Regions from separate parts of the Homo sapiens genome. Here regions 1 and 2 are each linked to region 3. Evidence: fine-mapped expression QTL. A gene starts in region 3. Each other region holds a variant in brackets. All regions are shown on one strand. Distances are between the middles of the regions. Region 1 overlaps TBC1D24 (TBC1 domain family member 24). Region 2 has its middle 27 kb from the start of FLJ42627. Region 3 holds the start of AMDHD2 (amidohydrolase domain containing 2).

The links. PIP is the estimated chance that this variant, and not a neighbour inherited with it, causes the effect. A credible set is the group of variants that fine-mapping cannot tell apart.
Region 1: its variant is the best candidate, but not a certain one, in a credible set for the expression of AMDHD2 in whole blood (TOPMed, PIP 0.54).
Region 2: its variant is the best candidate, but not a certain one, in a credible set for the expression of AMDHD2 in whole blood (INTERVAL, PIP 0.76).

The regions. Positions count from the first base shown.
Region 1 is chr16:2,487,150-2,497,904 of GRCh38, reverse strand. TBC1D24 (TBC1 domain family member 24) reads right to left here. Exons shown (of 8, transcript NM_001199107.2): 2 at 792-1,871; 3 at 178-195. The coding sequence starts at 1,756. Among named protein-coding and RNA genes, the nearest start is that of TBC1D24, 17 kb to the right of the region's middle. RefSeq lists an enhancer at 484-1,089. The variant C/T (reference allele first, on the strand shown) is at 4,514.
Region 2 is chr16:2,606,728-2,616,699 of GRCh38, reverse strand. It overlaps the pseudogene LOC652276 and the pseudogene PDPK2P. Among named protein-coding and RNA genes, the nearest start is that of FLJ42627, 27 kb to the left of the region's middle. The variant C/T (reference allele first, on the strand shown) is at 5,984.
Region 3 is chr16:2,516,647-2,524,646 of GRCh38, reverse strand. AMDHD2 (amidohydrolase domain containing 2) reads right to left here and starts at 4,276. Exons shown (of 11, transcript NM_001330449.2): 1 at 4,106-4,276; 2 at 3,742-3,878; 3 at 3,524-3,663. The coding sequence starts at 4,188. It overlaps ATP6V0C (ATPase H+ transporting V0 subunit c), which reads right to left. Exons shown (of 3, transcript NM_001694.4): 2 at 5,246-5,429; 3 at 4,429-5,106. The coding sequence ends at 4,902. RefSeq lists silencers at 4,061-4,130, 4,301-4,410.

The sequences.
Region 1 (10,755 bases), 28 kb after region 3:
GGCAGGGAGGCAGGCAGACAGACAGACAGAAGGCGCCTGAGCATCAGTCCGGCTCAGAGGCAGCGCTGCTGAAGCTGGCCCACGAGAGCAGCCCTGAGACCCAGAGCAAGCAGCTGGCCTAGAGTCAGCCTGGTGGAAAGACAGAGGCCAGGTGTGCAGATACAGTTTCAGACCTACCTTTTAGAAAGTGACACACTGAAAAACAGGAGAAAGCAACGGACATGGAGAAGAAAAATAAAACAGACAAAGAGAGGTTAGTGTGAGTACCGATCCCCCGACAGGCCTTTGCTGGCCCAGAAGAAAGAGGGCTGCACGCCAACAGGCCGCAGCGTGGCACCATCACAGCGCTGGCTGCCAAATCCACATAGGACAGACACCATGAACTCCTGACCCTGCTCCCCTGGGGCTGTGCTCCAGGCGGGGAGGCCACGCCCAGCAGCCACAGCAGAGACCAGCCACGGAGCCCAGAGCCGGAGGGGTGGAGCAGAGGCTGCCCTGAAATGACCCTGGGAGTGGGCCTGGCCTCCCACGATGCCTTGCGACCCCATGGCCAGCATCAGCTTTCATCTCAGCCGTGGGCCTGGCCCCAGAGGATAGGACCCGATGTCCCTCGTCTGTGGCTGTAACTGGGAAGGCCCTTCCTGTTTCAGTGTCTTTTCAGCCATGCACAGATGGCTGGGTGGACCATGGGCAGAGGCCGCCTGGAGGCCGGCAGGATGAGCTCACGCCAGACACGTCCTGCCCCAGCCCCCGACCCTGGGTGTACCCCTCACAGGCTGCCGGCGACCTACCTCTTCTGCTTCACGGTGATGCCCTTCTGCTTCAGGGCTTTCTCATTGGCCATCTGCAGGAGCTGGATCTCCTTGCGGGAGAAGAGGCGGATGGCGAACGCTTTCTCCAGCAGCTTCTCAGGGGACACCGTCTTCGCGATGTCTCTGACGAACGTGCGGATGTCCTGCTTCACGCTGTCCGACTCCAGCGGCTGCCCGGCCCTCACCTTGTGGAAGAACTTGAGGATGGCCAGCGCCACGCGGTACAGCACCTTGTAGCCCTCCACCAGGAAGACGTCAAAGACCCGGGCGAAGTAGCAGAGGGGCAGCTCCCCAAACAGCCAGCGCTGCCAGTCCGCATAGACCTGCAGGACATCCTCCGACACGGCCACCATCAGCTTGTGGGCCGCCTGGCAGTACTTGTTCACCAGGTCCCCAAACGTCATGCAGGACGACTCAAAGGCCAGGAAGCTCTGGTCGATCAGCCTCCTGCCGGGGTCATTGCAGGCCAGGATGCGGCAGGCCTTCTCGAAGCACTCGGCCTCGTCGATGCTGTAGTGCAGCAGCAGGGCCACCACGGCCGGCAGGGCGGGGCAGAAGGAGATGTCGGGGAACTGGTTGGCCAGGCACAGGAGGATCTTGCGCACGGCCCCCTCGCCGCGTGCATTCAGGCAGTAGCTGGGCACCTGCGTGTTGTCCACGAACTCGGGCAGCGGCAGGCAGCTGCTGCTGTGCTTGCCCACGATCTTGCCCACGATGTCGCTGTACACGCTGGCGTCAGGCGTGACCGTGCGGCAGGGAATGTCCCGGATCAGGCGCTGGTACACCTTTCCCCGCAGGGCGTGGCTTTGGGCCCAGTAGCCCTGGCGCGCCAGCTGCTTCAGTTCCTGCAGTTCAGTGCAGCTCAGCTCCTTGGGCCCCAGGTCCTGGATGGCAGCGTCCATCTTGTCTTTGTCCACGAAGCAGTTGTATCCTGGAGAGTCCATAGCGCCGCTGTGCTCGGGAGGAGGCCCTGGACTGCCGGAAGGGGAGGACAGAGTGGCTAAATCCTCCAGCCCCCTTTCTGAGGGTTTCCTGCAAACCTGTCTGCCATCTCACACCCTGCAGGATTAAAAAAACACTTTTAGCATCTGTGTTTCAAGGTTCACATTTTAAAGAACGTATTTTTTCAAATGTGGTGTAGTTTTCTTTTCTTTTGAGACAGGGTCTCGCTCTGTTGCCCAGGTTGGAGTGCGGTGCAGTGGCGTGACCCTGCTCTCTGCAGCCTTGAATGGCTTGAACCATCTTCCTGCCTCAGCCTCCTGAGTAGCTGGGACGACAGGTGTCCACCACCATGCCCAGTTAATTTTTTTTTTTGAGATGGAGTCTCACCCTGTCGCCCAGGCTGGAGTACAGTGTCACGATCTCCACTCACGGCAACCTCCTCGCCCCTGGTTCAAGCGATTCTCCAGACTCAGCCTTCTGAGTAGCTGGGACTAAAGGCATGCACCACCATGCCTGGCTAATTTTTTGTATTTTTACTAGAGACAGGGTTTCACCATGTTGGTCAGGCTGGTCTCAAACTCCTGACCTTGTGATGTGCCTGCCTTGGCCTCCCAAAGTGTGGGATTACAGACGAGAGCCACCGCCCTGGCCTAATTTTTTATTTTTTTGTAGAGACAGGGTCTCGCTATGCTCTCCAGGCTGGTCTTGAACTCCTGGGCTCAAGCAATCCTCCTGTCTTGGCCTCCCAAAATGTTGGGATTACAGGCATGAGCCACTGTGCCCGGCCTTGTTTTGTTTTGTTTGAGACAAGGTCTTGTGCTGACATCCAGGCTAGAGTGCAATGGCACCATCTCGGCACACTGCAACTTCTGCCTCCTGGGCTCAGGTGATCCTCCCACCTCAGCTATAGCTGAGACTACAGTTAGGCGCCACCACGCCCAGCTAATTTTTTCTCTTTTTAGTAGAGACGAGATTTTGCCATGTTACCCAGACTGGTCTTAAACTCCTGATCTCAAGCAATCCACCCACCACAGCCTCCCAAAGTGCTGGGATTACAAGTGTGAGCCAGTGCTCCTGGCCTGTTTTTTTGTTTATTATTATTATTATTATTTATTTTGTGTGTGTGTGTGTGTGTGTGTGTGTGTGTGATGGGGTCTTGTTCTGTCACCCAGGTTGGCCTTGAACCGCAGGCCTCAAGTGATCTTCCCACCATGCTGGAATTACGAGTGAGAGTCACGTTGCGCAGCCACATTATTTGCCTTAATCTTTGTGTAAGTATTAGAAGGGCTTCCACTTAAGATAAGTGACTTTTGAGAAGCCGTTACAAACTTTGGAGTATACCTTCTTTTCACAGAACTTATGAAGTTACTGGAATACATCACACAGATTCTGAGTAATGAGAGGCTAGAGATAGAGTTCCCAGAAGGGCTTCAAGAGCTTGGCCCTTGGCTGGGCACAGTGGCTCATATCTATAATCTCAGCTACTCAGGAGGCCAAGGTGGGAGGACTAGTTGAGGCCAGGAGTTCAAGACCAGCCTGGGCAACATGGTGAGACCCCATCTCTACCAAAAAAAGAGGCTGACCCTGCTGAAAACACCTTTCCACTCGAGCATGGTCCACTCCAGGCTCCTAAACACCACCCTGCACCCTGGGGGCCTTCTGAAAAGGAACCCCCAGTTGAGAAGATCACTTTGAGCAAAGAGATGCTTCGTTCTAGTTCTCCCTTTTTTTTTTTTTTTGAGACAGAGTCTTGCACTGTCGCACGGGCTGGAGTGCAGTGGCGTAATCTCGGCTCACTGCAACTTCCGCCTCCCGGGCTCAAGTGATTCTCCTGCCTCAGCCTCCTGAGTAGCTGGGACTACAGGCACCCGCCACCACACCCAGCCAGTTTTTGTATTTTTAGTAGAGATGGGGTTTCACCATGTTGGCCAGGCTGGTCTCGAACTCCTGATCTCGTGATCCACCCACCTCGGCCTCCCAAAGTGTTGGGATTACAGGCGTGAGCCACCACGCCCAGCCCGTTCCCAGTTCTCTTTAACCAGCTGTGTGTGCTAAGAAAGTCACAGCCTATGCTATCCCACCCTGTCGGAATTCTGAAGCCGGCTCTTAACTTTCTAAAACCACCAGCTTGAAAGCTATGCTTCAGGCAGGTGCTCCAGGGAGGAATCTCTGGTGAGGAGCAGGCATTTTCCAGAGGGAGAGCTGGGACCTAAATGGAAGGTGCTGCAGCTTTAAAACTGCACATTTCTGGATCCGAATGGGCCAGAAGTCAAGTGGGGGTGGTTGGTGTTTCTCCAAGAACAGCAACCCCTGGGCTCAGGCAAACATAAAAGGAGTGGGTAAGACGTGCCCTGTGGGATTCTGGACAACAGGTGGCTGCCCTGGCCCAAGGATACCGTCCTGCGCACAGAAGTGCAAGGTTTGCTTACGCACATCAGACTAACCTTTCCACCTGGGATGGTAGAAGTTCCCAGTGTGCCCCAGGGGTCTGCTTCAGCAGGTTTTGGTTGAGTGACCAGACCACTCCGGTTTCTCTTGCAGCTAGAACATTCACCTACCTATTATAAGGCAAATACTGCTTTAAAACAGTTCTTGAAAAGTAAAAATCATAGTGTAAAACGTACGTCTGCGAGACACTGTCTTGGGAAAACACCTCGACACGTGTTTTTGTGTGTGTGGTAAAATACACATAGCATAAAATTTACCATGTTAGGCCGGACGCGGTGGCTCACGCCTGTAATCCCAGCACTTTGGGAGGC[C/T]GAGGCGGGTGGATCACGAGGTCAGGAGATCGAGACCATCCTGGCTAACACAGTGAAACCCTGTCTCTACTAAAAATACAAAAAAACTAGCCGGGCGTGGTTGCGGGAGCCTGTAGTACCAGCTACTCGGGAGGCTGAGGCAGGAGAATGACGTGAACCTGGGAGGCGGAGATTGCAGTGAGCCGAGATTGTGCCACTGCACTCCAGCCCAGGCGACAGAGCAAGACTCTGTCTCAAACAAACAAACAAACAAACAAAAAATTTACCATTTTAGCCATTTTTTATTTATTTATTTTTTTGAGACAGAGTGCCGCACTGTCGTCCAGGCTGGAGTGCAGTGGCGTAATCTCAGCTCACTGCAACCTCCGCCTCCCTGGGTTCAAGCGATTCCCCTGCCTCAGCCTCCCAAGTAGCTGGGATTACAGGCATGTGCCACCACGCCCGGCTAATTTTGTATTTTTAGTAGAGACAGGGATTGTCCATGTTGGTCAGGCTGGTCTCGAACTCCCGACCTCAGGTGATCCGCCCGCCTCAGCCTCCCAAAGTGCTGAGATTAGAAGCGTGAGCCACCGAAGTTGATTTTAATGTATCCCACTGGAAAAACCTTGCCCACAGCAGGACTAGGCCTCAGAAGAAAAGAAACCCTTAAGACCATTGATTGGTTTGCTTCGTCCTGGGAGGGAAGGCAGTGAGGGCTCCCCCTTTCCCTGGTCCTGAAGGTCAGGCCGACAGGTCCACTCACATGCGCACAGCCACGCCTGGGTCACACTGCACAATCTTACACGTGTCGGTCGGTTATCCACAGCTTACATCCCTCCTTCCCTGCTATGGGCCCACTAGCCTCTGGAGGAACTCCAGGCCCATCCTGTTTGGGTGAAAGAACTGGCTCCTTCTTAAGGCAATAAACATGTTTCTAAACAGAACAGGAGCTGGGCAGAGCAGCACCAGCCTCCACTCGGCTGGCCCCAGATTCAGGTTGAATATTAAACTGGAAACAGTAAAAGCTGTGGGTGCACCTTGCGAAGTTCCCTTAGGGAGATGCAGATCCCAAGTTGTGTTTACTGCCGCGAATGGTCCGGCGACGTGCTGGACTCACAGGGACCCCCGAGCCAAGGATGTGTGCAAAAGACCCGAGGGAGCCCTTGGATTCTTTCTTGTTCCCCAAACCCTCACTCAAAAAGAGCGCACGACATTTCTGGGGCTGTGCACACAAGGCAACAACCCACTTAAGGCATCTATAAAAACCAGGTCCAGGCCAGCAAAGGGGCTCACATCTGTAATCCCAGCACTTTGGGAGGCTCAGGCAGGAGGATCACTTCAGCCCAGGAGTTCAAGACCAGCCTGGGCAACATAATGAGACCTCATCTCTACCAAAAATAAAAAAAAATGGCCAGGCCTGGTGGCATGCACCTGTAATCCCAGCTATTTGGGAGGCTGAACGGGGACGACCTTTGGACGCCAAGCCCAGGAGTTCAAGACTAGCCCACACAACATGGCAAAACCCCATCTCTACAAAAAAATACCAAAATTAGCCAGGCGGGCCAAGCACGGTGGCTCATGCCTGTAATCCCAGCACTTTGGGAGGCCGAGGCAGGTGGATCACAGGGTTAGGAGTTTGAGACCAGCCTGGCCAGCAGGTAAAACCCCGTCTCTACTAAAAATACAAAAAATTAGCTGGGTGTGGTGGCACATGCCTGTAGTCCCAGCTACGTGGGAGGCTGAGGCAGGAGAATCGCTTGAACCCGGCAGGCAGAGGTTGCAGTGAGCCAAGATGGAGCCACTGCACTCTAGACTGGACGACAGAGTGAGACTCCATCTCAAAAAAAAAAAAAAAAATTAGCCAGGCGTGGTGGCGCATACCTGTAGTCCCAGCTACTCAGGAGGTTAAGGTGGGAGGATCACCAGAGCCCAGGAGGTCAAGGCTGCAGTGGGACCTGATTGTACCACTGAACTCCATCCAGCCTGGGTGACAGAGCAAGACCCTGTCTGAAAAAAAAAATAAAATGAAAACAAAAATAAAAAATAAATACATAAATAAAAACGAGGTCCAGATTGGTTTCCTTAGGTTAAAAAAAAAGTCTTTCATTACGCTGGTGATATTTGAATGCAAAAATCACAAAAAGTCAAATAGTACCAAAATTAGGGAGTAAAAATGTAGAGTTCTGTTTAAATTACCTCTCTAATCCTACTCCCCTTCCACATACAGATAATCGCTATTCACATTTTGGTATATATCCTGCCAAACCTTTTTCTTGCATTCACAACTGAGTGAGGTTTTCTTTAAACTGGCAACTGAGATGAGGAGGTAAGGGGAGGTGGAAACTGATCAAAAACATAAACTATCCCAGGCTGGAGCACTTATGGGCTTGAGTGCCCACACTCTGGAGGTGAGCTTTCACGGCCGAGTGGCTTTCCCTGTTGTCTATCTGCTGGCTGGCTGCTGCTGTACATCATAAGCCGCACCTGCTCCTACGCAGCAAACAAGGCCTCCTCTGTTCCCTGCAGTCCCCCAACCCCTGACAAAGGTGCAGAGCCGGAGGCGGTGGCCGGGGAGGGAGTGAGAGGGGAGGCAGGGGCTACTGTGGAAACGGGGCAGCTTTGCAGTTAGACAGGCCTGGCCACAAAGTCCAGCTCTGCCACTTGTTTGCTTGAAATGCGGACAAGCCGTGCATCTTCCCTAACCTGCGGTTGCCATGTCTGCAGAGCGGAGCCGATAATAACACCCAACTCCTCACGGGCAACAGTTCCCAAGCAACCCCTGTGGGTTGAGCCTCACTCTGGACTGACAGGGTGGGGTGCAGGTGACATAAGGGTGACACCCCATGAACAGTCTATCCCACTCTCTCTCCGGGTTCAGGCAGCCCAAGGCAGACAGTGCCAGCAGGGCCCTGTGAGGGTGCCTCCTGTGGGGGAAGCCATCTTCCTGTGGCCTCTGGGGTCCGAGCGAATCGCTGCTCGCCATGAACACTGCACTGCCTTCACCTAAAGTGTGCTTCCCCACCAGGCTCCAGTTCCCTGCAGAGGCACGGAGTGAGGTGGCGCTGGTTCTCCGAGGTGGCACCTGTCAGCCCAGCTGCCAGCAGCTCCCTGAGTGTGGAGCAGAGAAGCACTCCTCCTGTCTTTGGTCCTCAGCCTTGGGCCCAGCCTGCAATTCCAGGAAAATAGGAAAAATTCCACCTGACACCCACGAGACTCACAAGAATTACAGACACAGACAGTTTCAGATGGTGGGGGTCCACACCGTGGGTCTGGAGGGTGACAGCTACTTTACTGAGGATCCTCAGGGCACACCTCTCCCAGGAGATGACATTGAGCCAGAGGAGTGAGAAAGAAGCAGCCGGGATTGCTGAGGATGAAGCGCTCCAGACACCAGCAGAGTAGGTGCAAAGGCTGAGGGAGGAACAGGCTGGCTGCGCTACAGGGCGCAGAGGGCAGCACGGACACACCCACAAGCCCCCGTGGATTATATTCCAAGCGCAGTGGGAAACTGGCAAGGGATGGGCTCTAGTCCCTGTTCTGTTGCGGGATTTACTGAGCCTGTTGATAGAAAGCACTCAGCCCAGCCCGGCCGGCCAGGACCGCTCAGCTGCCTGAGGATGCTCTCATCCTTACAGGGTCCCAGGCCAGGTGCTAGAAAGGTGTTCTAGAATGCCTGGGACATCACGGTCCCAGCGGGTCAACACGCAGCCGGTCCTGCAGAGGGAGGTGCAACTGCACGGGCCAGGGGCAGCTCTCTCACAGGCCACCGTCCCCTCCTAATGCCTCTCTCCACAGCCAAGCTGCCCTCCATACCCAGTGCGGCTTCTTTCTCACCCGGGAAGCCTCTCCAGGGACCTACATGGCCTTTCCTCATAAACGCCACGCCTGTTTGAGAGCTCAAGGTACCTGCAGATCAGAAGCAAATGTTTGTATTCATTTGTTCGCTCGTTTATTTATTTATTTATTATTTATTTATTTTTTGAGACAGAGTCTGGCTCTGTCGCCCAAGCTGGAGTGCAGTGGCGCGATCTCGGCTCCCTGCAAACTCCGCCTACCGGGTTCACACCATTCTCCTGCCTCAGCCTCCCGAGTAGCTGGGACTACAGACGCCCACCACCACGCCCGGCTAATTTTTTTGTATTTTTAGTAGAGATGGGATTTCACCATGTTGGCCAGGCTGATCTCGAACTCCTGACCTCGTGATCCGCCCGCCTCAGCCTCCCAAAGTGCTGGGATTACAGGCGTGAGCCATTGGGCCATGCCTCATTCATTCATTTTGAGACAGGGTCTCACTCTGTTCCTGCTCCAAAGCAAATATTTCTTTCTTGTTTTTTTTTTTTTTTGAGAAGGAGTCTCACTCTGTCACCCAAGCTGGAATACAGTGGCACGATCTCGGCACACTGCAACCTCTGCCTCCCGGGTTCAAGTGATTCTTCTGCCTCAGCCTCCCAAGTAGCTGGGACTACAGGCACGCGCCACCACGCTCAGCTAATTTTTTTTTTTTTTTTGTATTTTTAGTAGAGACGGGGTTTCACCGTGTTAGCCAGGATGGTCTCGATCTCCTGACCTCGTGATCCACCCGCCTCGGCCTCCCAAAGTGCTGGGATTACAGGCGTGAGCCACCGCGCCCGGCCAAATATTTCAAAAAAAAAAAAAAAAAGCAGCCAGGTGCGGTGGCTCACACCTGTAATCCTGGCTAACATGGTGAAACCCCATTTCTACTAAATCCAAAAATTAGCTAGGTGTGGTGGCGGGCGCCTGTAGTCCCACCTACTCAGGAGGCTAAGGCAGGAGAGTAGTGTGAACCCGGGAGGCAGAGCTTCCAGTGAGCCGAGATTGCACCACTGCACACTGCACTCCAGCCTGGCGACAGAGCGAGACTCCATCCCACAAAAAAAAAAAAAAAAAAAAAAAAAAAAGCTATGTGCGAATGAGTAATGAGTATAAGCGATTTCTATTTCCCCAAAATGTTATCTTGATATGTCATCTGACGCATGTGACCACCGTGCCCTCTGGCCACAGGGCACAGTTCTGGCTCTACCACATGTGAGGAGGGGCCCTTTAAATGGCTACAGGCTTGCAGACCCCCACCCCGCCACAGCCCCAGCAGCCTTCCCAGGGAGGGCAGTTCCTGCCAGTTGACCAGTGTTCAGCCAGGAACACCCAACAGCAGCCTATGTCCTCACTCCATGGGAGCTCCAAGAAACCCCCAAATCCGTCCCTGGCAGCAAACCCCCTGAAGGCGCCCACAGGAAGAGGAAGGCGGCCAGGGCTGGGAGGCGGGCCGTCTGTCAAGAGTGTGGCACCCTGAGCTAATTTCTAGCCAGGAGGCAGGTGGGAGGTAGCATGGATGTGGGAGGAAGTAGATCCTCACTGGAGAACGGGGCAGGAGGGGCCCCAGCGGGGCAGCTGGCCCCTTCGCTCCAGCAGACAAGCAGCTCACCCCAGCCTCGGGGCGGAACACAACCCCACAGCTGCTGGCTGCTGTTGCTGCTCCATCTCCCTTCATCCTGGGACAGCGAGGACCTCCGAGAGAGGCTCCAGAGGGTCCCTGAGCACAGGCAGGACCCACGCAGGTCTGGGACTTCAGGGCACTCGGCCACTTCTAGTACCAGGGCCCTCCCACGAGTCCTGGAGACACAGGCCACCCCGGCAAGGCTGCCACTAGTAACACCACCTGCCATCCCCAAACACCAAACTCCAACACCAAACTCCAGCACCAAACTCCAGCACCAAACTCCAGCACCAAACTCCAGCACCAAACTCCAACACCAAACTCCAACACCAAACTCCAGCACAAAACTCCAGCACCAAACTCCAGGCCTGACAGCCTGAGTCACGAGGCCTCTGCACGTCTCGCTTCTTCAGAGGGGAATGTGATTTTCCCAAACAACCGGATTTGAAAACAAACTCTCTTTCATGTACAAAGACAGAACACACATTTAGCCTCATTGATGACATTTTAACACGGCCAACACCAACCCCGACACCGTGCCTCCCTTCCTGGGGACCGCTCCTGTCCCAGGTCACAGCAAACGTGAGGAGGCAGCATACGACCGCGGCTCCCTCGTCCTGCAGTTAGTCACATGACAGACCTCCACTGAGGTGCCGCCTCTGTGCCAGGGAGAGGCGGCTTGAGAGAAGGCTGTCAACCACGGCAGCTGGGGAAGTGCTAGGGGAACCCCACGGGCAGGGCTGTGCCTGCTGCTGTGGAAGGGGCGGAAAGGTGTGGAGGCAGCCTGTGGGTGGGGACGGTGCCCCTC
Region 2 (9,972 bases), 91 kb before region 3:
CGAGTCCGTCACGTGGGAGAACCTGCACCAGCAGACGCCTCCGAAGCTCACCGCTTACCTGCCGGCTATGTCGGAAGACGACGAGGACTGCTATGGCAATGTAAGCTGGCCGGGATGGCGGGCGAGGCAGGTGGCACTGGGTCCTCCGTGCACTGGGCTTCATGCCCGTGCGCCAGACCCACGTGTGATTTGTAGCCGAAAGGGGAGGGTGTCTGTGCCACTGCGGCAGGCCTGCTGGTGGTTGTAGTCTTTGCTGCCGTGAGGCAGTGGCGGGTGAGGTGCTGGGTGGGTCATTTTCTCCTCATTTCCGTGGCCGTGGACAGGCTAGTGAGTTTCCACCCACAGGGTGCCGCTAGAACCGGACGCCGAGCACCCCCGGCACTGGCCCCGGGGTCCCACGTACGGGGCCTCCTGCCCGGCCTGTCGCATCTGCGCTTGGCTTGGTGCTTGTACAACTGTGCGGCCAAGATGCTCCAGAACACTGCCTGTCTTTCCACAGAAACCCCCGAGTGTTGTGTGCTTGAACTTTTGGGACGTGGCGTTGGTGGGGACACTGGTACCTTCTTCAGTGCTGAGTAGGCTCTGAGGCTGCTGGTCTCCCAGCTTGACCACAGCCATGGGGTCTTCAGCACGCTTGGCTCTTTAAGCTTCTCGTAGAGAGCGTGGACCATGTGCCCAAGGGACCGAGGGTGTTGTGAGAGGCAGGCATGTCGCCCACTTCAGCCTTGTTTCCTCTGAGTTCCTCTTGCCACCTCCCCCGTGACCCCCTCGTACTTAAGTGCTGTTATCATGAGATCCATTTTTCTGGTTTGACTTCTGTCGCCATGGCTTATTCTAACTGGCACCGTGTACGGAGTTCCACTTTCCATGACTGAGGAAGTCCAGATTTTGTTTGTTTTGAGACAGGGTCTTGGTGTGTCACTCAGGCTGGAGTGTAGTGGTGCGATCTCGGCTCACTGCAACCTCTGCCGCTGTGGGTTCAAGCGATTCTCCTGTCTCGCCCTCCCGACTAGCGGGAACTGCAGGTGTGCACCACCATGCCCGGCTAATTTTTGTATTTTTAGTAGAGACAGGGTTTCGCCGTGTTGGCCAGGCTGGTGTGGAACTCCTGACCTCAAGTGATCTACCCGCCTCGGCCTCCCAAACTGCTGGGGTTTTAGGCATGAGTTACTGCACCCAGCTGGGAATTCTAGATTTTATCTAAAAGTCATCCACAGCTAAATTTCTGCTAGTGTCAAAGTTTCCCAACGCCCCTACCTGCTGTGTAACGCCCCTCATCCTCCCGACATCCTTTGAGCCCAAACTCTAAGGGAGCCAGGCTTGGGGAGCGGAGTCTGTGCCGCCTGACGTGGCCACCTGAAGCATTTAGGGACTGCAAACCTCCCTTAAGAGCCTTAAGAGCAGATTCCACAGGTCCTGCCTCAGGGCTTCCTCATGGGTGGTCTTCATTCCTCCAGGATCCCAGAGGAACCCACATATGGGACATGGCAGCTCAGGACAACACCCAGCCACCTACATGGGACAGGGCCACACAGGATAGAGACAAGGAGATGAGGGCCTCAGTGTCACAGACTTCCCAGCCCCGCATGGGTCCCGCACAGCCCCCTTCTCCAGCACCGAGGACGTGAGTGGCTGCGTCAGGGGTGGGTTAGAGGTGAGCCTGGGCGGCAGGGCCTTGGTCTGTGTCTAGTGCCTGTTTCTGAGCCAATCCCACTAGGGGCAGACTGAGATAAAACGAAGCCTCAACTCGAGTGGCTCCACGACAGAACACAAGCGGCTGCCCAGAGAGAGTGCATGTGAAAGACATTCCCTGCCAAAGAGACAGGAGTGGGCATCATGGCTCACAGCCTCAGAGCAGGGGCAGGGCTGGGCCACAGCCCCCGTCACTCCACGCCCCGCGTGAACTCGGAGGAGGCAGGCAGATGCCCAGGCCCAGAGGCCCAGAACAGAAACGGAGTCAGACGCTGCCCAGTGCAGACCGATGCGCAGACACGGACCCGGGGGAGCAGGGCCACGCCCGCACGCAGGTGCCCAGAAACCCTCAGCCTTCACGGCGAGGCCTCGAGCTGTTCTGAGCCAAGCCAGCACCGCAGCACACAGGCAGGCCAGCCTGGGCCCAACGCGTGTGGGCACCGTCCCTGCACCACGATCACTCAGAATGGAACACGGCAGCTGGCAGCAGCAGGCACAGTCCAGGTGATGGCACAGAGACATTCACCACCCTTGGGCTGTCCTTGAGGGAGAGCAGGCCAGGGAACCAGGCCCTGAAGCACGCCGTGGGCATCACCGGGCATGTGCCTCACACACCCGCTCAGACCACCTCAGTCACAGCAGGGAGGAACCCCTCACACCCCTTGTGTCGCCAGCCGGAGCCTGGACAGAGGGAGCCCTCCAAGGAGCTGCAGCCAGGGAGGACCCCACACCCACAGGGTCCCCAGGCCTCCCTGTCCGGCAGCTGTGCCGCTGCCCGTGGCCTCAGCACCAGAACGTCGGCCCCAGCTTCAGAGTACAGGGCCTGCTCCTCCCTGGGGCCCCAGGCTGCAGGCATCTGTGTCTTAAGTGGAGCCCTTGGCACCTTTGTCGGGCCCTTGCCCCCAAAGCTAAGGCACCTGTGCCCAAAACTCGGCTTACCTTCCTCCGCGAGGTCTTTGTTAATCACCAGCTTGCCGTGTCTCAGGTAGTTCAGCACAGGCCCAAAGTAGGTGGGGTCTCTGTCGATTAAATAGGCGCCTGTTTCATCCTAAAGAGAGCAGAGCACGGTGAGTCCTCCGTGAGAAGCCGAAGGTTCCTGCAGGTCCACCAAGGCCCGGCCACCTCAGGAGGCTTCAGAGGCACCAGGTTACCCAGGCCTCTCCCCAGCACACCTGAGCCTGCGGCATCTCAGGAAACCCCTGACGGTGTGGCCACGTCCTGCCGCCTACAGCCTAACCCTGACCAGCCACCACCCCAGGTCTAAGTGAGTTTAAGTCTCTCCGTACGGAGGCAGCCTGGCTCTGCGTACTCCAAGGTGAGCCCACTGTGCCCTGGACCTCTGTCCTCACAACTGCAAGACCTCTAGGAAAACACACACGAAAACCTCACCCAGAGATGCCCTCGCGGGCAGGGCAGGGGCCTAGGGCTCAGCCTCAGAAGGACACCTCTGATGGCCACCAGCCTGGGCCTGCGCTCCTCGTGCCCGGGTCCTCCGCAGCCTACATGCAGGAACGGGGGGTCAGGGTGACAGGGGCTTCCTGCCAGGGGTGGAGAGGGCACCTTTCAGCAGGGGCGGCTGCCCAACAGGCCGGGAGCCAGCAGCGAGGGAGGCCACAGTGACCTGCACTCAACAGCATCCGGGGCTTTCCCCAAGATCATCACTCACCTCACAGAGCCCTCGCCCCGGCTCAGCGCTCACGGAGGCCGAGATGTTTACAAAACAGACCCCTCGGAAGGTGTCCTCACGCACCTGGGTGGAGGGACCCCTGAGAGGCACTGCCCCTGCTGCTACCACGGCCACTTCAATGTGGGCAGATGCCCTCTGAGGCCCGGGGTGCCCCACACATCACACCTTGCAGCCCCTTCCACAAAGCACAAGAGCCCCAGTGGCCCGGCCGTGAACACAGGACGGGGGCTCAGACGCCCCAGGCAGCCCCCATGGGGGAGACGGAAGAGGCAGTTTCTGTCTTGTCGGCTACACATCTGATGGGGGGACTGCGAAGCTGGCACAGCCTGTCTTCTACACAGACTCAGACCTTCCGTGTGGCTCTGCTGGGGCAGCTCCTGCCTCCCCCCACATGCCTGCAAGGGTCCTGCTCCCACCTGCGAGCCACTCCCACAGGGGCTGGTGCCTGCGGGTGCCCTGGAGGCCGGGGAGCTGAGGCCTCCGTTCAGAAACACCGGCAGCCTCCCCGGCGAGGCCCAGGGCCAAGCGCTGGAGAAGCAACCCCACACCCCATTCGGAGCAGGAGCAGCCCCCTCACCAGATGGTGGCTCCTGTGGGGCCATGGGCAGGCGCTGGCCACGGGAATGCCAGGCTCGCAGATATGGGGAGGCCGAAGGTGTCTCCACCACAAAGCACGGGGCCACGCTAGGACCCTATTTTCATCCATGGACAAATTCTGCCATTTGGGTGCTAAGACCTAGTGGTCTCAAGAGATTTTCCCAAAGTCCACCACCGCAAACCTGCAACAACCTGCTCTTTTTAGATCACAGGGACTGAGTTTTGTGGCTGAGATAAAATCAATTAGGGCTCCGGGCATGGGGGCGCTGGACCCGGAGCCTCGGCGGCCCCCCTACTCCTTAGGGTGACCCCAGCTCCACACAGACCTGACCCTATCCTCCTTCCCCACCCTCCCCCGGAACACTCCAGCCAGAGCTGCCCACCCCACAGGCCCTGCCTCCTGGGCTTGGCCCTGCCTTTCCCCAGCCCTCCAGACTCCACAGCTCTCAAGCAAGGGCCGGGGCCACAGGGCCAGCTCCCGGAAAGAGGACGCTGGGCGGTCCTGCGCAACTGCTAAAAAATGGACACCATTTCCCACAAAGGGGCCCAAGTCTGGCAAGGCGGCCAGTGCTGCCACCCGAGTCCAGGGTTCCTCCCTGCCCCACCCCCATACAGAGAGAATGCTGGCCGCGTGACGTCCGCACACCGCTCAGCTCAGGAATTATTCACGGCTCACTGCTACCTCGACAGACCGCTGGCAGGAGGTCAGGAAAGATCAGATAGGGCGGAGGCTCGCCTCTGCCCAGGACAACCCCAGAGAACCCCTTTGTCAGCCATGGAGGCCTCCAGGCCTGGCCTCAGTGGTCAGACTGCAGGCTCACAGCCAGGCCACCCCAAGCCTCAGTTTCTTTACGAGCAAAAGGTGGGGGAGACCAGCTCGTGTAGCTCGGGGCCGCCATGAGTGCCAGGGCACCCAACCTGTGGCAGGACCTGGGCACTGAGCCGTGACCTCTAGGCCAAGACAACCCACCATGCGCTTCTCGGGCCCTGGGCCGATGCAAGAGGAGAAGAAACTGTACTGGGTGCCCCCAGACAACCAGGGCAGCCCCAGCCCTGCAACTGGAAGGACGGAGGCAGGAGGGAAGGAGGGCGGGCCGAGGACGGCCATCAGTTAAAACCACACAGCAGGACAGAGGAACAGGCCTGAGGACCCAGCAGCGTACTGGGTGTACTGGCAGTGGGCTTGGTGCTGCTCTCACCACTGTGCTCTTTTGAGGCTTTCAGTGGCTGATTTCCACATTCACAGTAAGTGCTGGGGTCTGAAACCAACACTCTTCAATCCTACCAGGGTTCAGGTCTCGCTGAGGCCTGACTCGCATCCATATACGTGCAGGGTGTCGGTGCTTTGAGCTCGGGTGAGCCACGTGCTCCAGATTGGCCTAGTGCGTGCAGGGTCTACTCATGGCACCAGCCCAGGCCCAGACAGTGCCAAGCTCAGGCGCAAGGGCCTTGGCAGCTCACTGCTTGTGTCAGGGATGTGGCTCAATAGCCTCCACCCTGATGCAGAAACAAAAATATGGAACATGGGGAGTACAAAAACATAAAAAATTCAGGATATACTCCTAGGCTCACGGAGACAAAGGGAGCAAGGTCACCTCACGGATGTTCAGAACAGTGCCTGAGCCGACCCAGGTAAGGCCCCTGTGCTGCCCACAAGGCCATCAGCGGTACCTGCCCAAGGAGGGAAAGATGCCCCAGCCCGGCCATGCCTCTAAGATGGGTGAGGAGAGGTGGCCAGGAAGCCAGCGGGATGCTGCGGGCCGGGCGTGGGGGTGCTCTTCTTCCTGCGGGCCCGGCGTGAGGGTGCTCTTCTTCCCACGGGCGGGGAGTGGGGTTGCTCTTCTTCACGCGGGTGGGGTGTGGGGGTGCTCTTCCTCTTCTTCCTGGCTTTCCCGTGTGTCCCACGGCTTACACAACCAGCACAGGCTGCGCTCGATTCTCGCAAAGGTTCGTGGTGGTTTTTTTTTTTGTAAGACAGCCCTAATTGGCTGGGTGTGGTGGCTCACA[C/T]CTGTAATCCCAGCACTTTGGGAGGCCAAGGTGGGCGGATCACGAGGTCAGGAGTTTGAGACTGGCCTGGCCAACATGGTGAAACCATCTCTACTAAAAATATAAAACTTAGCTGTGTGTGGTGGTGCATGCCTGTAATCCCAGCTACTCAGGAGACTGAAGGAGGAGACTCGCTTGAACCCAGGTGGCAGAGGTTGTGGTGAGCCAAGATTGTGCCATTGTACTCCAGCTTGGGCAACAAGAACAAAACTCCGTCTGAAAAAAAAAAGCCATAATTAAGACTTTTCTTAGCAAGTCATCTCCCTCATCTTCCCCGCACCTTGCTGAACCGGCATCTGACCTACTTGGGGCCGGGCCCAAGCTGGTATTGGGTGGGCCCAGCAGGCTGGGTTGACCCACCCATCTCCAGGGGTCACAGCCTTCAGCCGGAGCCACCCACCGCAGGCCAGGCAGGCCGGTTTCCAAACCATAGAGGAGAAGAGGGATCCTGGCCACACCAAGAGCAGGAGCCAAGGTTGTCTCCTGGAGAGGAGCGCACGGGAGGCAGCGCCAAGCCAGGGCACACACAGTCTCAGGAGGTAGAAGAAGATCCCACAGACAGAGCTGGCTGCCCCCTCCCCAAGTCCACAGGACAAACACAGAGGGAAGTCTGTTTAGGAGAGCAGCACTCAGAGAAGGCTGGTGAGAAGCCTGCCCACTCTGCTCATGTCACCAGACTCCGGCTGCAGCCCTCAACCCTCCATGCTGTCACCCAGCAAGCAAAGCACCAGAGACAACATGGGGGCACCCCAGCCCCTGAGGAACAGGTCCCTAATGCAACCACCAGCCTTGAAAATGGCAGTGAAGGGCTGGGCTTGGTGGCTCACGCCTGTAATCTCAGCACTTTGGGAGGCCGAGGCGGGCGGATTATCTGAGGTCAGGAGTTGAAGACCAGCCTGACCAACATGGTGAAACCCTGTCTCTACTAAAAATACACAAATTAGCCAGGCTTGGTGGAGGGTGCCTCTAATCCCAGCTACTAGGGAGGCTGAGGCAGGACAATCACTTGAACCTGACAGCCCCGTTGCAGTGAGCCAAAATTGTGCATTACACTCCAGCCTGGGCGATCCAGTGAGCCTCTGTCTCAAAAAAAAAAAAAACGGCAGTGAGGAATGAGGGTGGAGACTGCCAGGCTCTCACGCCAGATTCTGAACCCAACATAACCCTGCTGCTGCCCAACCCTCCCGCAGCTCCCAGAGCTCTGCAAAGAGGGTCGGCCCTGCGGCTCTCAGTCATTCCCGGTGCTCGGAGACACGTGCCACCAGAGGGGAACGAAATCAAGAGGGTGCAGTGCCCTGAGCCAATCCAGGAGATAAACTCTGTCAAATTGCCCCACAGAAATCTAGACGCGAAGGCATAGAATTTCCTGTGCACCAACATCTGCAATCAACCTAATTAGAAATACTTAGTTTTTACTCTGAAATTATCCATTTCAAGTGACTCTGTTTCAATTTCGCACACAAAACCTTCACCTCTACTCTCTCTTCTGTTTTGTTTTATGCAGCTGTGGCATATCTTTGGCCCACAAGAGGACTTTGATGTCACCAATTACTAATGGGGAAACTGAGGCCAGAGACCAAGGAGGCTTGTCCAAGGCAGCCAGATTCGGAGAGCAGGGTGGGGCCCCTGTGCCCTGGTCGCCAGGCCTGCTGCCTCCCCACCACCCTTCCCTTCCATTGCTTCTCGGCCTCACCCAGCATAGAAACTGGAATTTGGGAGGTCCCTGCCCCACACATGACTCAAAGCTTAGTGAGAAGCAGACGTGTGTGGACTCACGACCTGGCCCCTCACAAGAGGTCCTGCGGCTTCTCGGGGAAGAAACATGCTTCAGGTGAACCACGGGGGGTCTTGCCAAGCCGAGGTCGCTGCAGAGAGTCCTGCTCTGCTCGGCAGGAACTGGAGCCCTCTCAGGAGCAGGGGTGTCAGGTTTCTTGCAAGAAAACTCGGGGGCTGCCCAGGAAGCCCTGCCCTCCCCACAGTGCAGGGTCCAGTCCCCAGAGGTGGAGACCCACTCAGCGGGGGCCTGTGCTGCTAGGGTCAGCCAGAGCTCTGGGTGGCAGCAGGGGGACTGGCAGGGCGAGCCACTCCTGGCCATACATGCTGCCTTCAGGGACCTCCGGTGCATCACCCGAGGCTGACAGGGCTGAGTGTGGCCAGAGGTCGACATTAACAGAAATTAAGTGTGGCTGCGGGAGGGGAAAAGCGTTCTTAGCATATCCTTCCTAAAAGTAAAGTACACTCACACCTGTAATCCCAGCACTTTGGGAGGCCGAGGTGGGCAGATCACCGGAGGTCAGGAGTTCGAGACCAGCCTGGCCAACATGGAGAAACCCCATCTCTACAGAATATATAAAAATCAGCCAGACATGATGGCTTGTGCCTGTAATCCCAGTTACTTGGGAGGCTGAGGCAAGAGAATCTCTTGAACCCAGGTGGCAGAGGTTGCAGTGAGCCCAGATAGAGGCGGGATAGAGTGAGACTCTGTCTCAAATATTTAAAAACAAAAACCAAGTACAGGCCGGGTGCAGTGGCTCATGCCTGTAATCCCAGCACTTTGGGAGGCCAAGACAGGTGGATCAGGAGGTCAGGAGATCGAGACCATCCTGGTTAACACGGTGAAACCCCGTCTCTACTAAAAATACACAAAGATTAGCCGGGCGTGGTAGCGGGTGCCTGTAGTCCCAGCTACTCAGGAGGCTGAGGCAGGAGAATGATGTCAACCCGGGAGGTGGAGCTTGCAGTGAGCTAAGATCGCGCCACTGCACTCCAGCCTGGGCAACAGAGTGAGACGCCGTCTCAAAAAAAAAACAAGTACAAACACGAAGACCTCCAGGCACAGCCTCTCCTGACTGCACTGACCTGGTGCCAGGCATGGGGCAGGGGCACCACATTTGTCATCTTCAGGGGAGGACGTCACCCTTACCTTACAGAGGAAGAAACTACAGCTCACAGGGGACGGGAAATCACCCGAAGTCACAAGGCAGGCCCGGGATGGGCACAGTCTCTCACCAGTGCTGGCTACACAGTACATCATCTGCCATCTCCACTAGACGTGATCCCCACTTCTCTTGCCAAGCGGCTTCAAAGACGGTACTCTAGCCCACACCCCATCACTGGGCCCTGTCTGAACAATTCCTTCCATAACTTTCCACCCCCGAGGTCTTGCCAACACCCAGTACACTGTTAGAGGCACCCTGACTGCCCCACCCCTCAAAGACCCATCTGATGCCACCACATCTGGAACCCTCAAGCCGGGACAACGGCCCTGTTCAAAGGGCAAAAGTTCACGTGCAGTTTTCTCCAAGGCTGCCTCAGCTGCAGGAACCGAAGCCTCCCCAAATTCTCCTCCATCTGAGTGGTTTCCAACCATAAAGCAGTAGTATTTCCTGTTTCCTTTTAACTCCTCAAGTATCTCCACACTAAAGCAGGGGCTGCTTTAGCTGGAAACAACAAACTCGACTTTGTTTTCAACAATGCCTATGGGCCGGGGACCATGCAATACAAGAGACCTAACCAAAATGAATCGAGTCTTTGGGAAGCCGTATTCCACCTGGCCTGCCCTCGAAGACACCAAGGAAGAGAAAGATGACAGAACAGCAGATGAGCAGATGCTGAAATGCTCACCACAGCCACAGTCCTGCTGGAGGAAGTCCCAGGAGGAAGTGAGAATTCACACCGGGCTGTCTAGAAAGAGAACTTTGTGGCAGCAGGTCGGCCCTTGGAACAGCAGAGTAAGGGCTTGGGAGCGTGGAGTATGGCGGGTGGTGGGTCCCAAGCTGGGCTCTGAGGACTTGGTTGGGGGCAGTCACAGCCCAGAAGCTTAGATGTGGGGCCAGAGGGCAATCAAGCCAGCCCCTTGATGTGCGTGGCTTTCACCACCCTCCCTAACAACCCGTCTGTCAAGAGCTCCCCTCCCTACCAGATAGGATGCTTTAGCAGGGTGCTCTCCC
Region 3 (8,000 bases):
GTTTTTCCTCACAAGCCCTATGGATACACAGGCTCACTAAAGATTAAAACAGGAAAAAAACAAACAAAAAAAGACAATGGCTGAGTTTTTCCAGAATGGAGTTTTAGAAGGGAGCAAGAGGGCGCTACATAGAGAGAGCACAGTAAAAGATCAACTGAGGGGAGGGGAGTGAGGCACACTCCAGGCAGGTAAACAGCCGGAAAGGTCAAAGTGTAGAGGGTGTGCGGGGCCAGAGGCAGGGGCCTGGCTGCCCCCTGGAGGTGCCTCACCTTGGCTCAGGAGGTAACAGACTTAAAGCAAAGAACAAAGTGAGCTCACCTGTCTCCAAGTACCGTAGCAAAGGACAGGCGGAAACCCCCCAGAAAAGAGAAGGTGGTCTTAATGGACCAGAACAGGACAACAAAAGACCGAAGAAGCTTCTGGCAAAGTGGCCATCCAATTCCACCCAGGGTGAGTGGGCCCTGGAAGAGGTGGCGTGCACGGCACAGGGGAGACCCGAGTGAAAAGGGGCCTCCAGTTTCTAAGATGATCCAGGCAGGAGGCTTCCCAATTCCCACCCTCAATAGTTGGCTCTCTGCCTTCATCCTGTGTGTGCGCCAAGGGTTAAGACACCTGCACTGCAGTGCATGCTGGGAAGAAAACAAAGTCCTACTTGTCAGAGACTCTTCCTAAGGAAGAAGAGCCATAGTTCCTCCCACGCCTGTGCTGGCCAGAGATGCGCAGGCAGTGGGGGGCACAGTGGGGACAGGTAGGCAAGGCTTAGCAGAGGAGGCCTGGGGAGCAGGCCAGGGCCTTCTAGGCCAAGAGTTTGGGGGCAGGAGTGGGGAATGTGGCTGGGGACAGAGAAGAGGCTGGACAGGTAGGAAAGGAATGCTGCCGGTAGGGGTGGGGCAGAGGTGATGTGCTGAATCCTGAATCTTGGACAGGTGGCTCTGACAGGCCCCAGAGCCCCAGAGAGCAGCTGTGAGAACCAGGTGCCAGTTGGCAGCAGGTTTTTGACATTTGACTCTGTGTGGGGAGGGCTGTGGGAAATTTCCAAAAAGACATCCATGGCTAATACTGAGTGGTGAACACTCAGCATCTCACGCACGATGCTGAGCACCCAACGCCCCTAAGCCATGCACGCTGCCTTCATCCTCACTTCAGGTTTGAGGAAACGGAGGCTCAGAAAGGCAGAAGGTTGTCCTGAGTCTTCCAGCCGATACATGACATCAGGAGGCCAATGCCAAATCCAGGAAGCCTGAGCCCAGAACCCACACACCACCCCCATTGTTCCCAGCTCTGGCTCTGCCCACACACCAAGAGAGGGACCCCTTGGGCATATAACGCAAGTGATGATCCTGAAATGAATCCTGTGCTGGAGGGGAAAACGGCGGGGGCTCTGGACAGAACTAGAACACAGACGGCTCAATTAAAGTACTGTTAACAGGGTTCATTTTCTAAACTCACTAACTCTTGTGGCTCCATAAGAAAATATTCATTATCTTAAGAAATAGTTAAGTATTGGTTGGGCACCATGGCTCACGCCTGTAATCCTAGCACTTTGGGAGGCTGAGATGGGCAGATCGTGAGGTCAGGATTTCAAGATCAGCCTGGCCAGTATGGTGAAACCCCGTCTCTACTAAAAATACAAAAATTAGCCGGGCATGGTGGCGGGCGCCTGTAGTCCCAGCTACTCGGGCGACTGAGGCAGGAGAATCGCTTGAACCCAGGAGGCGGAGGTTGTAGTGAGCCGAGATCGCACCACTGCACTCCAGCCTGGTCAACAAAGGGAGACTATGTCTCAAAAAAAAAAAAAAAAAGTTAAGTACTAAGGAATAAACAGGCATGATGGGCCAGGCACAGTGGCTCTCGCCTATAATCCCAGCACTATGGGAGGCCGAGGCAGTAGATCTCCTGAGCCTAGGAGTTTGAGACCAGCCTGATCAACATAATGAGATCCCTGTCTCTACAAAAAACTTTTTTTTTTTGAGATGGAGTCTCGATCTGTTGCCCAGGCTGGAGTGCAGTGGCGCAATCTCGGCTCACTGCAACCTCTGCCTCCTGGGTTCAAGCGGTTCTCCTGCCTCAGCCTCCCAAGTAGCTGGGACTACAGGTAGGCGCAACCACTCCCAGCTAATTTTTTGTATTTTTAGTAGAGACGGGGTTTCACTGTGTTAGCCAAGATGGTCTCGATCTCCTGACTTCGTGGTCCGCCTGCCTCGGCCTCCCAAAGGGATTACAGGCGTGAGCCACCGCGCCCGGCCGAAAAAGCTTTTTAAATTAGTCGGGTGTGGTGGCACAAGCCCGTAGTGCCAGCTACTCTGGGGGACTAAGACAGGAGGATCTCTTGAGCCCAGGAGTTCAGAACCAGCCTGGGCAACACAGTGAGACTTTCTCTACAAAAAATGTTAAAATTGGCTGGGCATGGTGGCACACACCTGTAGTCCTACCTACTCAAGAGGCTGAAGCAAGAGGATCGCTTGAGCAGAGAAGAATGAGGCTGCAATGGGCTATGACCACACCACTCTACTCCAACCTGGGCCACAGAGAGAAACCCTGTCTCTTAAAAATAACAAAAACTGGCCGGGCGCGGTGGCTCACGCCTGTAATCCCAGCACTTTGGGAGGCCAAGGCGGGCGGATCACGAGGTCAGGAGATCGAGACCATCCTGGCTAACACGGTGAAACCCCGTCTCTACGAAAAATACAAAAAATTAGCCGGGCGAGGTGGCGGGCACCTGTAGTCCCAGCTACTTGGGAGGCTGAAGCAGGAGAATGGCGTGAACCCTGGGGGGCGGAGCCTGCAGTGAGCCAAGATTGTGCCACTGCACTCCAGCCTGGGCGACAGAGCGAGACTCCGTCTCAAAAAAAAAAAAAAAAAAAACTAAACAAAAAAAAAAAGCATGTTGGATACAACCTACTCTCAAATAGTTCAGTAAAAAACAGTAGCACAGGTACAGCCAAGAGGAGCCTGAATAGTAGTAACATACAGCAAAAAGTTAACCCTGTAGAACCTAAGTAAAAATTAAAATAAAAAAAGACCAAGGACAACCAAATTTCTTCCGGGCAGGAAAGAAAATGGAAGCGTGGGGCAAGCAGTACAGGAGCAGGGGGAGTCTCTTCTGGAAGGCGTGTTCCACTGAGTCACACATCAGACAGGTTAGGGAGGAAGAGCCTGACCAGGGACTATCGCTGTGCCAATCACAGAATCCCCTGCGGCCTTGGTTAAGGGGATGGTTTCTGAAGCCTGGAGGCAGCCAGAGTGCAGTGCAGGGGGTGGGGACGGCCTATGGCTCAGACGGTGCTGAGCCAGCAGTGTGGAGACAGCTGCGGAGGACAGAGGGTCTAGGGAGGCCAGGCAGAGCGACAACTGATAAAGAAGCACAGGGGCGGGACCCAGGCCCAGATCCGGTCATCAAAGGAGGCCAGACTCAGGACCATGGAATACGTGCTGGGGGTGGGGGGTGGGGCGTGAGTTTGAAAATGAGGGCGCTGGTTGCTCCGGGAGCCCCCTCCACCTCAGCCAGGGAGCCTCACCTCACCTTGTGATAAACCTCCGGTGGGGAAGTGACCAGGGTGGGGCAGAAGGAGGTGACGCCGTGCGACAGGATCCTCCGGGCCACGAGGGCAACCCCCGAACCCACGTCCTCCGTGGCTTGAGAGAAGTCAACACCAAATCCACCTGCAGCCACAGAAAAGGAAGTGTCGCATGGAGCTCAGAGCTCCTCCCCTGGGTTCCCCTGCCGGCCCCGGGCCGCACCGTTGATCTGCACGTCGATGAATCCGGGAGCCAAGATGCGGCCCCCGCAGTCCCGCCGCTCGTCGGCCACGCGCCGCTCCTCAAAGAACAGCTTCTCTGGGTCCAAGATGCGGCCTCCGCGCACCCACAGATCCTCCCTGGGGACGCAGTGGGTGGGCGCTCGCATCGCGGGCCTGACCTCGGCCCCGCACCCTGCACCCCGCCCGGTCCCCGGCCCCGCACCCTGCACCCCGCCCGGTCCCCGGCCCCGCACCCTGCACCCCGCCCTGTCCCCGGCCCCGCACCCTGCACCCCGCCCGGTCCCCGGCCCCGCACCCTGCACCCCGCCCGGTCCCCAGCCCCGCAGTCCCCGGCCCGCGCCCACCTGAGCAGTTTCCCTCCGCGCAGGATCCGGCAGTTAGTGAACTGGAGCACGCGGGCCCCCGCCGCGCCCTGCTCGCCGCGCATCGTGAGCCGTGTCGGGAGCGAGCGGCTCCGGAGCCCCGCGGCGGCCAAATCCCGCGCCCAGTGACGAACCCCAGCCGAGAGCTGAGACCGCGCCCACGTGACCTTCAGCTGACTGAAGCGGCGCGCCACGTGACCGCCGCGCCCACGTGATCGAGCCAGCCCACGTGACCGGCAGCGCCCGGCGCCCGCCCGCCCGCCCGCCCGCCCCCGCCCCCAACAAGCTGAGCAGACACAGGCCCGTCACATCCAAGAACTTTATTGGACACAGCTCCGCGCAGGGCCACGGGCCCGGCGGTGAGGGCGGCTCCATCCAGGAAGTCTCAGCAACAGGAACCCACAAGGCGACACTCTAGCTAAGGTTATAGATAGCTGGGAGACAAGGGCCGCTCCGCAGACGCAGGAACAGGCCAGATCTTTATAAATAAACATCCAGTAAAGAGAAATGACAATTCTAAATCATCCGCATACACAGAGCACTCTAGGGGGTGGGGCGCCGGGGGCCTGGAGGGGCGATGAGTGGGCCCAGATGTCCACGGCACGGGGCGGGCGGGGGCAAGGCCGGGGAAACAGACGATGGGCACTAGGACACTGCGCATGTACAAGACCAACTACTGGGGGCGGCGGCCCCGTGCGTATGTGTCAGGCTGTTCGTTCTGGAATGAGGAGGGGTGGTCTTTACATAATATTCTGTGGCTGGTGGGCTCGGAGAGGGTCTACTTTGTGGAGAGGATGAGGGCGACGATGAGACCGTAGAGGCCGAGCACCTCGGCGAAGATGAGAATCAGGATCATGCCCACGAATAGTCGGGGCTGCTGGGCGGTGCCCCGCACGCCAGCGTCCCCCACGATGCCGATGGCAAAGCCGGCTGCCAGGCCGCTCAGGCCCACGCTCAGGCCGGCGCCCAGCTGGAGGAAGCTCCTGGGGGCGAGAAGAGAGGACTGACATCAGCAGCCTGCCAACCAGGGGGAGACAAGGGTCCGGGTCACCACCCACAGGTGAACCGCCCCCCTCCCTGCAGTCCTCCAGCCCTGGGCAGGGGCCTGACCCCAGTGCTCACTTGTAGAGGCTGATGTCGTCATTCAGGGAGTTGGCGATGAGGACTGCCACCACCAGGCCGTAGATGGCGATGATGCCAGCCATGACCACTGGGATGATGGACTTCATGATCTGCTCCGGCCGCATGACAGACATGGCCGCAATGCCGGTACCGCTCTTGGCTGTGCCATAGGCAGCGCCCAGGGCTGTGGGAGGAAGGCGGGGTGAGCCCACAGCAGTACGCAGGCCAGTTGAGACTAGGACCCCGAGGTGTAGCTTTGGCACAGCTCCAAGGGCCACCCCAAGTTATCACATGCAGAGGGGGAGCCGAAGAAGGCATCCAGCCCAGGGCAAGAGGACCCAGGAGGAACAGCCACGGGCAAGCAAAAGGAGGCCAGGACAGCCACTCCTCCTTCCTCTACGTGAGGCCCCCACCCTCAGAGTCCAGCTCTTCCTCCAGCAGCAGCTCTTGGGGCGGCGTGACCCATCTGGGGCTCCTGGCTCTGCAGTGAACCCACCTGTCACCCCAGGGAGCCTCAGTGCAGCCTCAGCAGCCCCCATGTGGGGTCAGGGTCAGTCGACCCTTGGGGCTACTGCCCAGGACAACATGCTGGAAAAGCCACCAAAGGTCTTGGGGATGGCAAAGCCACTGCTACAGGGTGTGACCGGAGGGTCAGAAGCAGCTGACCTGGCCACTCTTGTCACCCAGGCCAGAGCTCCCTTGACTCACTGCCCAGGCCAAGCTCCCCAACGCTCCCAGCCCCAAATATTAACCTAGGAGGGCCAAACATTCTGCCAGAAAGGGCAGCTCTCAGCACCCTCAGCCACACAGCAGGCCTGAACCCTTGACAGATTGGAGAATCTTCTCTACCAGACAGGAGACAGGGTGAGCCAAGAAGAGGATGGGGGCAGAGAAGACGACGGGGATCATCAACAGTCCAACTACGAGGCCTCAGCTGACCTCCCAGAGAGGTCTCCCCTGCACACGGGGTGGCTCCAAGCACACAGGAGCCTGGCCAGAGGGCCCAAGCCTCCCACCGCAACAGTGCTGGTGGGCTGGGCTCCAGGGTGGCCTGTCTCCTCCAGAGCTGTCCCTCCTTCCTCTCCCAAGAGAATGTTGCCTTTCTTTTCAGTTCCCCTCTCCTGGGCCCTATTCTCAAAGTGGAGAATTCTGTGGACACAGCAGTGTCACGGGGGCTCATTTGCCTTTCTGACTTCTGCCAGCTGCCCTCCAGGGCCACCACAGGGGCCTACTGAGCTGCTTGTGGGGACTGCACTGGCAACTCCCTGCCCCCTCTCTGCCCACAGAACTCATGCCATGGTCTTTTAGGGGAGCAGATCAATAACCAGCCTGACTTGGCCAGGCGCAGTGGCTCACGCCTGTAATCCCAGCACTTTAGGAGGCCAAGGCGGGCGGATCACCTGGTGTCAGAAGTTCGAGATTAGCCTGGGTAACATGGTGAAACCTCGTCTCTACTAAAAATACAAAAATTAGCCAGGAGTGGTGGCGCATGCCTGTCATCCCAGTTACTAGGGAGGCTGAGGCAGGAGAATCGCCTGAACCCAGGAGTGGAGGTTGCAGTGAGTCAAGATCACGCCACTGCACTCCAGCCTGGGCGACACAGAGAGACTCCGTCTCAAACAAACAACAAGAGTGAATCTCTGACAGACACACACACACACACACACACACACACACACACACACACAAACAGCCTGACCTGCAGAAGACTACATATGTCAGAGGTGGAAGGGACCAGGACTACCCCTACCATTCCTCTTCATATTTTATTGATATATTTGGGCCACAAAACTTGCCTACCCTGTGTCCCAGCACTCAGCAGGGGTGAGGACACAGGCGCGGTGACCTCCAGGCACAGAGACATGCTCCAGGAGAGCGGAGAAGGGGGTGCTGGGGAAGGGCTTCACAGACAAGTATCCCAAGTTGGCGGGAGAGAGGAGTCACAGAAAAACAAGGCAATAAGACAAGGGCTCTGGATAGCACCTGCAGAGGCACCCAAGACGACGGTGCTGGGTATCCAGGGAGTGACTATAGAGGGAGGAAGGAGGCTGGGACCTGGGCCAGGGAGCCACACGGCCTCCTCCACGCCACCTTGGAGGTGCCCAGACATGCCATGCCAACACCCAGTGCACCTGCAGACTGGGGCCCAGGGCCTGTCCCAGCGCCTGTCCTGAACTCCTGGTTACAGTGCATTTTTTCCCTGGCAAGCATATAGAGCAATTACAGTGCATTTTAGGGGGCTCCCACTGCAGGCCCAGGACCACATCCAACTGCATCATGTATGCACAAGAGACCAGAGCATGGCAGACACGTTGGCAGGAGACTGAATACAGGGAACTCAGCAACCCAAGTAGTGGACCCTGTGAGGCCAGTAGTCCACCAGAGGCAGGAAGTGAGCCAGGCCCTTTTCTACAGAGGGCAGCAGGAAGAATCATGTGGCTGGCAGGGGGAGGAGGCACCAAGAGGAGCACAGGGAAGAAAGGGATGGCCACCAGGAGCGGAATACCATGAGCACCCTGGACTCCAGTCCGGAGGCCAAGCCTGACCAGACTGCAGAAGGCAGACCTGTGAGCGGCACTAGGCTCAGCAGCCACAGAAAGAGTGGGGGGCCAGAAAGCAGTTGCAGAAACACAAGCATAAAATACAAGGCACTCGCCAGCAGGGAGGAAGTCACAGGAAATACAGAAAAGGAGCAAATGACAACTTCTTGAAGGACATGATGAAGAAAGAACAGGACATTTGTCATGAGAAAAAA